Linked DNA regions of Homo sapiens: region 2 is linked to region 1. Evidence: fine-mapped expression QTL. A gene starts in region 1. The other region holds a variant in brackets. All regions are shown on one strand. Distances are from middle to middle.

Region 1 (5,383 bases):
TTTCTTCCTATCTCTGTGACTACTTCTTTGTCTGTATTTCTTTTGAAGGATCTTACTATTTGGTTACTGGCTAAATACTGGTGTTTTTACATATTGTGCTCTGGGCCATCTTTTTTCTTCTTCAATTCCTATATTGTCTCTAGGGAGGCTGATTAATACTGTGGTATTATTGGAGTCCCCTGGGACTCCAGAATCTTTATTCCAACACTGATCTTCTTGCTTCCATTCTTACCCTTATAGTTTCTTAGTTCTTCTCCCCACTGCAGCCAGCGTGATTATTTTATGGAAGTTTGATAATATTATGTAACTTCTCTGCCTAGATTTTTTTTTTGTCGTGGCTCCCCATCTAACTTAGGGTAAAATCTACCTTTTTACTATGAATAGGGTGACAAACTTCTCCTGGTTTTCTTGGAACTTTCCTGGTTTTAGCACTGAAAGTCCTGTGTCCCAGGAGAATGTCAGTCCCAGGCAAAGCAGGGAACAGTTGGTCACCTTAAATGTGACATACAGGCTGTACATTATCTGGCCCTTTACCAGTTCTGTCCTTATTGCCTATTATTTTTCCCTTCATTCTATTCTAGCCACACTGGCCTCTACTTTGGATATATCCAGTGGTATTAAAATTGTAACATGTACCAATAAACTCTCCTTTCCTCTCTCCCATCATTCTTGATGAATGAAATCATCTGTGCTGAAGCTGTAACTACCTCTCCCTCACTCTATCATCAAATTGGTCCTAAGTTCTAGGGAACTTACTTTTGAGTCCATCTCTTGCCATCCTCGCTGCCACTAAAAATAGCTCAGCCCTTTATAGTTTGTTTAAATTACTGAACTAGCTTACAGTCTCTCTCCTTCTAACTCATCCTTTACACATTGCCTTAGTCTTCTTTCTAAAGTGCAGATCTAATTGATTATATCCACTTCTTATTAAATCTTTTAGAGTTTCCCATGACCTTCAGGATACATTGTAAATTCCTTAGCATAATACATATTATCTTTCACTGTCTCTTGCCTGTTTGCTTTTCTAGTTTCACCTGTCCTCATATGTCCACAGGCATGACACATTCTTTAGCTTAAAAAATATATTTTTGGAAACTTTTCTAGGATCAGCCTGGGATCCTTTCTAAAAGGCTGTTCTTAACTGCAAAATGTAACTATATGAGTGTCCACCAACATGCTGGTTAGAGGCTCACACAGGGATGCTTTTACTCTGGTGGGGAGCTTTGTTGATATGATGACCCAAGGCGTGATTTGAGAGTAGGTGAAAGAGTTCTCCAGAAGGCCTATGTCCCCCTAACCCACCCACCCATGCCTTTGTATGTGCTTTTGTCAAAAGTTCCCTTATACCACTTACTCACTTCTGTGTTTCTTGTTTGTTCAAGACTGGTGTTTCTCCTGGGTTGTAATTCCCTCTACAGAAAGCACTTATCCCTATATATTTATTTTCTGTTTCTTTTTCTCTTTCATTAGACTATAAATTCCTTGAGTATAGGACCTTGTATTTTAATTTCTCTGTCACTAGCATAGTTTTATACATAGCTGGTAGGCAATAAATGAATTGAAAAATGAATGATTGATTCAGTGATTTTAGGGAATAGGGATAGAACCCCAGTCTAGCTGAGTAAATATTCCCTGAATGTAAATAATAGAGATCATTGGTTCAGTAATTAATTTTTAATTGCCATCAGTGTTGATGCATTTGGGTTTTAGAACTTCTTAATGGCTTATTTTTATATCATTAAGGTAAAAGATCACTTTAGTGATCATATGTTACACAGTTTATTGAACTATATTTTCTTTTGGAAACTGGCTTCATATTCATAAATTTGTGGGAATTTGAAGCTGGCAAGCAATTGTTAATATTGTCATCTCTTCTCTATTTTCTAGCTAGAAGAACAGGTGTTAGAAGTTCTTTGGTTTCTCTTCTTGCCTCCAGGCAGATATGTTAAATTGCCTTCTGGTTTTGTGTATGCTTCAAGTTGTCTGATTTCTTTATCTTAAATATAGTGGTGTCTCAGTCCTTAAAAAAAGCCCAGAAGTTAATGTTCAACTTAAGTTTTTTCTCCTATTTATTAGTTGTCAAATGCTGCATAACTAATCACCCCAAAACTTAGAGGCTTATGACAGTAACAGTGTATTATTTCTTACGGGTTGTGCATGTCGGAGTTCAGGAGCAGTTTGGCTGGGTGGTTTTGGCTTGAGATCTCTCCTGAGGATAAGTAGATGTCAGCTTGGTCTGTAGGCATCTGAAGGCTTGACTTGGGCTGGAGGATCCACTTTCAAGATGGCCCACTCACATGGACTCATCTAAATCAAATGTGTAATTTCTATCCATCTCTTCTGTATTCTATAGCCACTCTACCGAGCCTGGTAAATAATTACAACATTTGAAAGCTTAATATTCAAAATGGGATAGAGGGCATGTGGTAGTCAGCCTCCAAGGTAGCTTCCTAGTATTTAGGTACCCTTTAATGTACTCCTCCCTGCCCCCCAATATTCAATCAAGGATGGCCTGTGTGACCAGTAGAATATGATGTGAGAATGTGTAGGTTCCAAGGCCAGGTCATAAATGGTATTGCAGCATCTGTATTGGTCTTTAGGATTGTTCATTGTGGGGTAGGACAGCCACCATGATGTGAGGATACTCACAAGCAGCTCTGTGGAGAGGCTCACGTAGAGGGTGATTGAGGCCTCCTGCCAATGGCCAGCACCAATTTGCCAGCCATGTGAGTGAGCAACCCTGGAAGTGGTCGTGCTAGTCCAAGTCAAGCCTTCAGATGCCTGCCGCCCTAGCTGATATCTGACTGTAACCTCATGAGAAAGTCTTCTCTCTGCAAGGGTTTTAGACTTGCAGTTGACCTCAGCAGGTATTATTCTATCAAATGACTGTTGATACCTTTTATATACTTAACATTGTGTGAACTATTACAATGAATATAAAAATTTAAAAACCTAGGCCTTACGCTTTCTTAACCTCAGTGTTGACCTGCTTAGATAAAGAAGTTGACTATTCACAACTTTGTAAAAACACTTTTCTGTGCCCTTCACGCTTACAAGTTGATTTACATTTATTATCAGGAGTTTGTTTTGCTAAGCCTACCCTCAGCCTTTTCTTCAAGATTGGAGTATCATTAAATGATGATGACTGAGCCTTCTGGACATCTTTAGGTGCCACATACTCTCATCTACACCAACCAATAGGCAATCTTACCACCTTATAATTTGCAATGGTTTGTTTTAATTTGTCTTCCACATCAAGCTATGAACTCCTTAAAGGAGTTTCATTATTTATGTATTTTTGAATAAATGAAGGATTACATTGGATTAAGCTTTCTCAGTTCTTTTTTAGTGACTTAGGATATCTTAAATGACATTTCAGAAAGGATTATGGTTCAAAACATTTCACATAAATATTTTGATTCCTTTTGAGATTGCTGGTTTATCCTGATTTTGGAGATGAGGAAGCTGATGCTAAAGTGACTTGCCCAAAGTTAATAGTTAAATAATTTAAAGGTTAGAATAAAAATTGGAAGGTTAGTAGTTAAATAATGATTTGAACAACACTGTACCATTAAATAACTTTACAGGGTAATTAGTAGCAGATTTGCTGCTATTTTTAGTTTCATTGTAACGTAGAAACTCACATATTATTATGTATTATGGCATTAAAGCTGGATGTAGACTACTAATTCTATCTGGTCTTTTTTGTTTTTATTTAAAGAACACAATTTTGTGGCAAAAAATGGAATATAGGGTAGACATTTTTAGAATTTCATTTCTTATTTTTATAGCTTAGTGATACCTTTTGATTAAATTTTTTTGCTTCACCTTTTTTCTTTTCCTCTTTATATCACCAAAAAATTCCTGTTAAAATATAGGTCTGAGGGTCATTTATGCCTGCCCGTTCGATATACACATTCCTTTCCAGAAGCCTTACAGAAGTTCTATCGTGGTGAGTTCAGGTAGGAATTTCTTACGGTTGTTCTTATGTAAGTATCTTAATAAGTATGTGCCATTAATAATGCTGTTAAAAAACAGAACAAATCAGGCAGGGCACGGTATCTCACGCCTGTAATCCCAGTACTTTGGGAGGCCGATGCGGGTGGATCACTTGAGCTCAGGAGTTTGAGACCAGCCTGGGCAACATGGTGAAACCTTGTTTCTACAAAAAATACAGAAGTTAGCTGGGCATGGTGGCAAGCACCTGTAGTCCCAGCTACTTGCGGGGCTGAGTTGAGAGGATCACTTGAGCCCAGGAGGTAGAGGTTCCAGTGAGCCGAGATCATGCCACTGCACTCCAGCCTGGGTAACAGAGTGAGACTGTGTCTCAAAACAAACAAACACACAAAAAACCAGAACAAATCAGATAATGTTTGGATTACTCCATAGATATAACAGTAGCCATTAAAAGTAATGTATTAGCTGAGTCACAAATAGGTCTAATTTACCTTCTCCTAGTCCAGTTGGAATTGTGGAGAGAAACCCTGACAAATATTGGTTGGCCTATAATATAACTGCATATAGAAATTTTTTTTCTCCTTCAGTGAGATAGCAGGCATGTCTCTACTTTCTTAACCTCGTTACATGTCCTTATCAGTTTAGTGGAAAGGTAATTAAAACTTTGGCTAAAATTGTTTGAATTTTCAGATTTTATATTTTTTATCTTTATCTCCCATCTAGTAATGATTGAGAGCTGGATTTAATCCAACCATGCTGAGATTCCTGGTATCTGTCTCACATAAAAGTATTTCTTAAGCAGTGGGGATGGGATTTTTAAAAGTTTCTTTTACTTAATGTGTTCAGTGGTCAGACCATCAGGAAAAGAGGAAGGTGGAGGAAGGAGCATGAGGTTGGCCAATTATATTTGAGAGAGCTAAGTTGGACTACTTTTTATTTCCTGACTTGGACTAGATTTTATAGTTGGGGAAAGCTTTTCCCACAGATGTTTGTGAAGTTGTATTAGATCTTCTTTTCAAGAATCATTTCATTACCAGTAATTCTAGTTTCTAGTCATTTCAGAAGTTTGACAAGAAATGGCTAATTTATAGCTACCAAGTGGAAGTATATTTTTGTATACTTACCTAGCAGAATCTGTCCCATTGACTTTCGATACATTGATTATCAGTTTTGAAATCAATTAAACCTGATTGTTTTTTTCCTTTTACCAGAGATGTTATTTAAATTTTTAGGTGTAATCAACACTTTTATTTATTGTTTCTTAATCCTTTTTTCCTTTTATTGTTTTAAAAAACCTCCATTATAAAATTTGTGGAGAGGGATTTTTATCTAATCCAGCCATCTGAACACAATATTATTTTAATTTAAGAATGCTTTCCTTTTTGTATAATATTTTTTGCTGAGCAAAGCACAAGCTATATCTAGC
Region 2 (5,383 bases), 140 kb after region 1:
TTGGGACTACATGTGTGCACCACCACATCCAGCTAATTTTTGTAATTTTAGTAGAGATGAGTTTCGCCCTGCTGCCCAGGCTGGTCTCAAACTCCTGAGCTCAAGTGATCCCCCCACCTCAGCTTCCCAAAGTGCTGGGATTACAGGCATGAGCCACCGTGACTGGCCGCAAAATTTAAAAGGGTTTTAAAAAGGAAAATAAATTATTATAAATCACATTAATGGTGGAAAAGAGTAAAGTCACATGACCATCACAAATGGATGCAGGAAACATTTAAATAAAATTCAATATTTATTTATGTGTTTTAAAAGTCCTAGGAAACAAGGAATAAAAGTAAACATTCATTTTCTAATAAATGTTTATCTATTTATCTATCTACCTATAAGTAAATATGTATTCGTAAACAAGAACACAAAACTACTGCAAGTATCCTTAATGCTACATTCTTTCCCTCTGAGATCCAGAACAAGCCAAGGATGCCTGCCTTCACTACTTCTGTTCAACATTGTGTGTCCCAAAATAATAAGACAAGAAAAGAGAACTGAAAGACCTAAGGATAAGGAAAAAAAGAAACAAGCTTTTATTTCTTATGACATGGTTATGTATGTGAACAATTTTAAAACTACTAATTATTAAAATTGATAAGAGAGTGGTATCTCTTAATATGGTGTTTGGGAACTTTGGTTAAGTCAGTAAACCTGAACCTCAAACTCATTATTTGTTTAAAAAAAGAGAAAGGGGTGTCTTATCATACAATACTCCTCACGGTTGCTGTGAGGATCATAATCAGATAATGCCCTTGCAAATGCCAACCATAATGCTGCCCCATAGCAGGGACTCATTTGTTAAGAAACACTGAACATCTGCATGGTTAGCTCACCCTCTTCCTTCAGGTCTTTATTGGGAAGTCATTTCTCAGAGGGGACTTTCCTGCTTTATTTTTTTCTCCTTATCACTGCCTAATATACTATATACTAATGCTCATCTCTCTACTCAAATACAAGCTCCACAGGGGATGGTTTTTGTTTGTCTTATTTGAAGAATCACCCCTGCCTGGCTCATAGTAGATGCTCAACAAATTTGTGTTGACTCAACAGATAAATGGGTGCATTTCTTTAACTGGCAGGATCAACCAGGTATAAATGAGTGAATTTAGTGAGTCACCATCCTGCCCTGATCTGGGCTACTGCATTATAATAGGTACAGGTGTATTCATTAGTATACTAGACAGGGAGACCCTCGTGCTGCTTTTTAAACCTCACCACTTCTCTGTCTCTTCCCTGTGAGTTGGGGTGGGGTGGGGAGTACAGAATTAGTTAGAATTCGTAAGAAGGGTGATGGGGCACCCAAAAATCGAGAGAAGGTTCAGAAAGGGAGACATGTGAACATCGAAGGTGGACTCTGTGTATCTCAAGTTGGTGTACTGTGTCAGTGCTGGTCAGGGCATCACTTGCCCACTTCAGCAAAGGGCCTGTCCCCTATGTGATTTCCATGGAGACCTGCCAGTCCTGGACTTCTAGGCAGGGCCAAGATGAGAGGTCAGCAGAGCAGAGCAGGAATCAAAAGGTAGAGAAAGGGCATAGAATGATTTATATTCCTCTGTGTATAGACCCAGTAATGGGATTGCTGGGTCGAATGGTAGTTCAGTTTTTAGCTCTTTGAGGGACCATCATATTGCTTTCCACAATGGTTGAACAAATTCACACGTCCACCAACAGTGTATAAGTGTTCCCTTTTCTCTGCAACCTCACCAGCATCGGTTATTTTTTTTTCTTTTTAATGGTAGCCATTCTGACTGGTGTGAAATTGTATCTCATTGTGGCTTTGATTTTCACTTCTCTATCAGTGATATTGAGCTTTCATTTCATATGCTTGTTGGCCGCATGTATGTCTTCTTTTGAAAAATATCTGTTTATGTCATTTGCCCACTTTTTAATGGGGTTGTTTTTCTCTTGTAAATGTGTTTACCTTCCTTATAGATGCTCGATATTAGACCTTTGTCAGATGCATAGTTTGCAAATATTTTCTCCCATTATGCAGTTTGTCTGTTTACTCTGTTGATAGTTTCTTTTGCTGTACAGTAGCTCTTTAGTTTAATTAGATCCCACTTGTCAATTTTTGCTTTTGTCATGATTGCTTTTGGTGTCTTTGTCATGAAGTCTTTGCCCATTCCCATATTCAGGAGGGTATTGCCTAGGTTGTCTTCCAGGGTTTTTATAGTTTGGGGTTTTATATTTAAACCTTTAATCCATGACTTGATATGATTTTGGTTCTTTTGCATTTGCTGAGGATTATTTTATATCCAATTGTGTGATTAATTTTAGAGTATGTGCCATGTGGCAATGAGAAGAATGTATATTCTGTTGCTTTTGGGTAGAGAGTTCTGTAAAGGTCTATCCGATCTATTTGGTGCAATGTTGAGTTTAGTTCCTGAATATCTTTGTTAATTTTCTGCCTCAGTGATCTGCCTAATACTGTCAGTGGAGTGTTAAAGTCTCC[C/T]ACTATTATTGTGTGTGAGTCTATGTCTCTTTGTAGGTCTCTAAGAACTTGCTTTAAGAATCTAGGTGCTCCTGTGTTGTGTGCATATATCTTTAGGATAGTTAGGTCTTCTTGTTGAATTGAACTCTTGACCATTATTATAAAATGCTTTGTCTTTTTTTATCTTTGTTGGTTTGAAACCTGTTTTATCTGAAATTAGGAATGCAGCCTGCTTTTTTTTTTGTTTTCCATTTGCTTGTTAGATTTTCCTCCATCCCTTTATTTTGAGCCTATGGCTGTCATTTCATGTAAGATGGGTCTCTTGAAGACAGCATACCATTGGGTCTTGCTTTTTTTTTATTCCAGCTTGCCACTCTGTGCCTTTTAAGTGGGGGCATTTAGCCTGTTTACATTCAATTTTAGTATTGATATGTATGTATTTGATCTTATTGTGGTGTCAGCTGGCTATTATGTTGGCTTGGATGGTGTGGTTGTTTTATAGTGTCACTGGTCTGTGTACTTCATGTGTGTTTGTAGTGATTGGTAACAGTATTTTCTTATATTTAGTGCTTTTTGCAAGATCTCTTATAAGACTCCCTCAACATTTGCTTATCTGAAAAGGATCTAATTTCTCCTTCGTTTAGGAAGCTTAGTTTGGCTGGATATGAAATTCTTGGTCGAAGATTTTTTTTGTTTAAGAATGTTCACTATAGGCCCCCAATCTCTTCTGGCTTGTAGGTTTCAGCTGAGAGATTTGCTGTTAGCTTGATGGTGTTCCCCTTGTAGGTGACCTGCCCTTTCTCCCTAGCTGCCTTTAACATTCTTTCTTTCATTTTGACCTTGGAAAATCTGACCATTATATGTCTTGGGAATGATCTTCTTGTAGACCCTTTAGGAGTTCTCTGTACTTCCTGAATTTGGCTGTTGGCTTGTCTAGCAAGGGTGGGGAAGTTTTCATGGATGATATCCTGAAATATGTTTTCCAAGTTGTTTGCTTCCTGCCCTCCCTTCCCTGCCCATTCAGGGATGCCAGTGATTCATAGATTTGGCCTCTTTACATAATCCCACACTTTTTGGAGGTTTTGTCCATTCCTTTTTATTCTTTTTTCTTTATTTTTGTCTGGTTTTCTTATTTCAAAGAACCAGTCTTTAAGTTCTGAGATTCTTTCCTCAGCTTGGTTTATTCTGCTAATTCTTGTGATTGCATTGTGAAATTCTTGTATTGTGTTATTCAGCTCTGTCAGATCCATTAAGTTCTTTTTTATACCAGATATTTTGTCCTTCAGCTCCTGTATCACTTTATCTTGATTTTTATTTTTTATTTTTTTGGATTAGGTTTTTCCATCCTCCTGAACCTCAATTATATCTGTTCCTATCCATATTCTGAATTCTATTTCTGTAATTCCAGCCAGTTCATCCTGGTTAAGAACTCTTGTTGGTGAACTGGTGCAGTTGTTTGGAGGACAAGGTTGTCCTCAATCTTGTTTCAATCACAAACAGCATCTAGAATTACTAAACTCATACAACACTTTGGTCATTTGAGTAACTGGAGTTTTTGCGTTGGTTCCTTCTCATCTCTGCATGTGGGTGTTCCTTTAACTGCAGTGTATGTTAAGTACAGCCAATAGACTTCTTTTCTGGATGTTTTCATTGGGCCATGGCTTCATGCAGGGTCTTTATTTGTAGCTGACTTCTTGTCTCTGGTTTCAGGAGGGTATGTTAGTGAGGTATTTTTGGTGTTGAAGCTTTAGGGTGTGATCCAGTAGGTGGAACTTAGGCTTATTGGTTAGTTGGTAAACTCTTACTTGGTTATGTGTCTCCCTTATGTTTCCTCATGGTTACAACTGTGTTCCTTCTTAATGCTCTGAGGGTGTGGGTTTCTCTCCCCATTGAGTGCTGGCTGTAGATCATGGCTTGGCATTCTTGGGCTTTCCACTACAGCTCTGGGGTGATCTCAGTGTTTATGTTCCTTTCCCAACTTGAAAGGAGCAAAAGAAGGGATCTTAGTAGTGGTTGTGGCCAAGGGCATTTTGCTTGTCTTCTAGGGGTTCCACCCCAGAGAGATGCAAGTCAGCAAATGCTGAGTGCAATCAGCTCAGGATGAAGGGTCTGTATTGTGGACCAAGCCAGGGGTTCCCTGTCTTAAGATGAGCAGTGAGGGGTATGTGGGACCCATGGGAGATGGACTGGCCTCCTCTCCTTAGGTCAACTGCAGCTTATTGGAGGTGTGAACAAAGCACTTAGGGTCTTTGCTTGTTTGTTAGTTGAAGGGTAGCAAAGGCAGTTCTACTGCAGAGGCAGTGGCAGAGAGGCTTTCAATTGCCCCTGGAGGCTCTGTCCAGAGAGTTGCCAGATTGCTACTGGCTTGATAGCTCTGGGGTTGGGGGCAGTTGCTGGAGGCCGAGGGCTGGAGGACATGCCTGATGAGGAGATATCGGAAAGGGCACCCATATTACGGTCTGGCCACTTTTCCATAGGGCTGTTGCAGTATGCTGGGGGTGCACTCCAGTCTGCAGTCACCTCAGATTTTCCAGTACCTAGAGGTATCACCATTGAAGGCTGTAAAACAGCAAAGATTGAGCTCTGTCCTAGGGAGGTATGGACCTGTTGCTGGCCCATACACACCTATAGGAGGTGGCTGGAGATCCTGGTTGGGAGGCCCTGTCTGGTGAGGAGGAAAGGATCGGGGACCTGGTTAAAAAAACAGTCTGGCCACATTTTCGTAGAGCAGCTGTGCTGTGCTGGGGGTCCACTTCAGCCCCTGATCGCCTTGGACTCTCCAAAATCTAAAGGCCAGAACAGCTAAGTCACCCAAACAACAAAGATGGCAGCCCCACTGTCCCTCTGGGAGCTCTGTCCTAGGGAGGTTTCAAAACTCTGTTGGCTGGAGAGCACTGGCAGGGG

Which allele goes with the higher level. Positions count from the first base shown, and alleles are read on the strand shown. Sizes are in standard deviations (SD) of each study's normalised expression.
With allele C in place of T in region 2, the expression in tibial artery of the gene that starts at base 2,503 in region 1 is lower (small effect, 0.25 SD a copy in GTEx).

Evidence for each region. PIP is the estimated chance that this variant, and not a neighbour inherited with it, causes the effect.
Region 2: its variant is the best candidate, but not a certain one, in a credible set for the expression of NADK2-AS1 in tibial artery (GTEx, PIP 0.70).

What each region holds. Positions count from the first base shown.
Region 1 is chr5:36,218,175-36,223,557 of GRCh38, reverse strand. It overlaps NADK2-AS1 (NADK2 antisense RNA 1), which reads right to left and starts at 2,503. Exons shown (of 2, transcript NR_170324.1): 1 at 2,149-2,503; 2 at 1,657-2,020. NADK2 (NAD kinase 2, mitochondrial) reads left to right here. Exons shown (of 12, transcript NM_001085411.3): 5 at 3,879-3,962.
Region 2 is chr5:36,082,898-36,088,280 of GRCh38, reverse strand. No RefSeq gene overlaps it. Among named protein-coding and RNA genes, the nearest start is that of UGT3A2, 19 kb to the right of the region's middle. The variant C/T (reference allele first, on the strand shown) is at 2,501.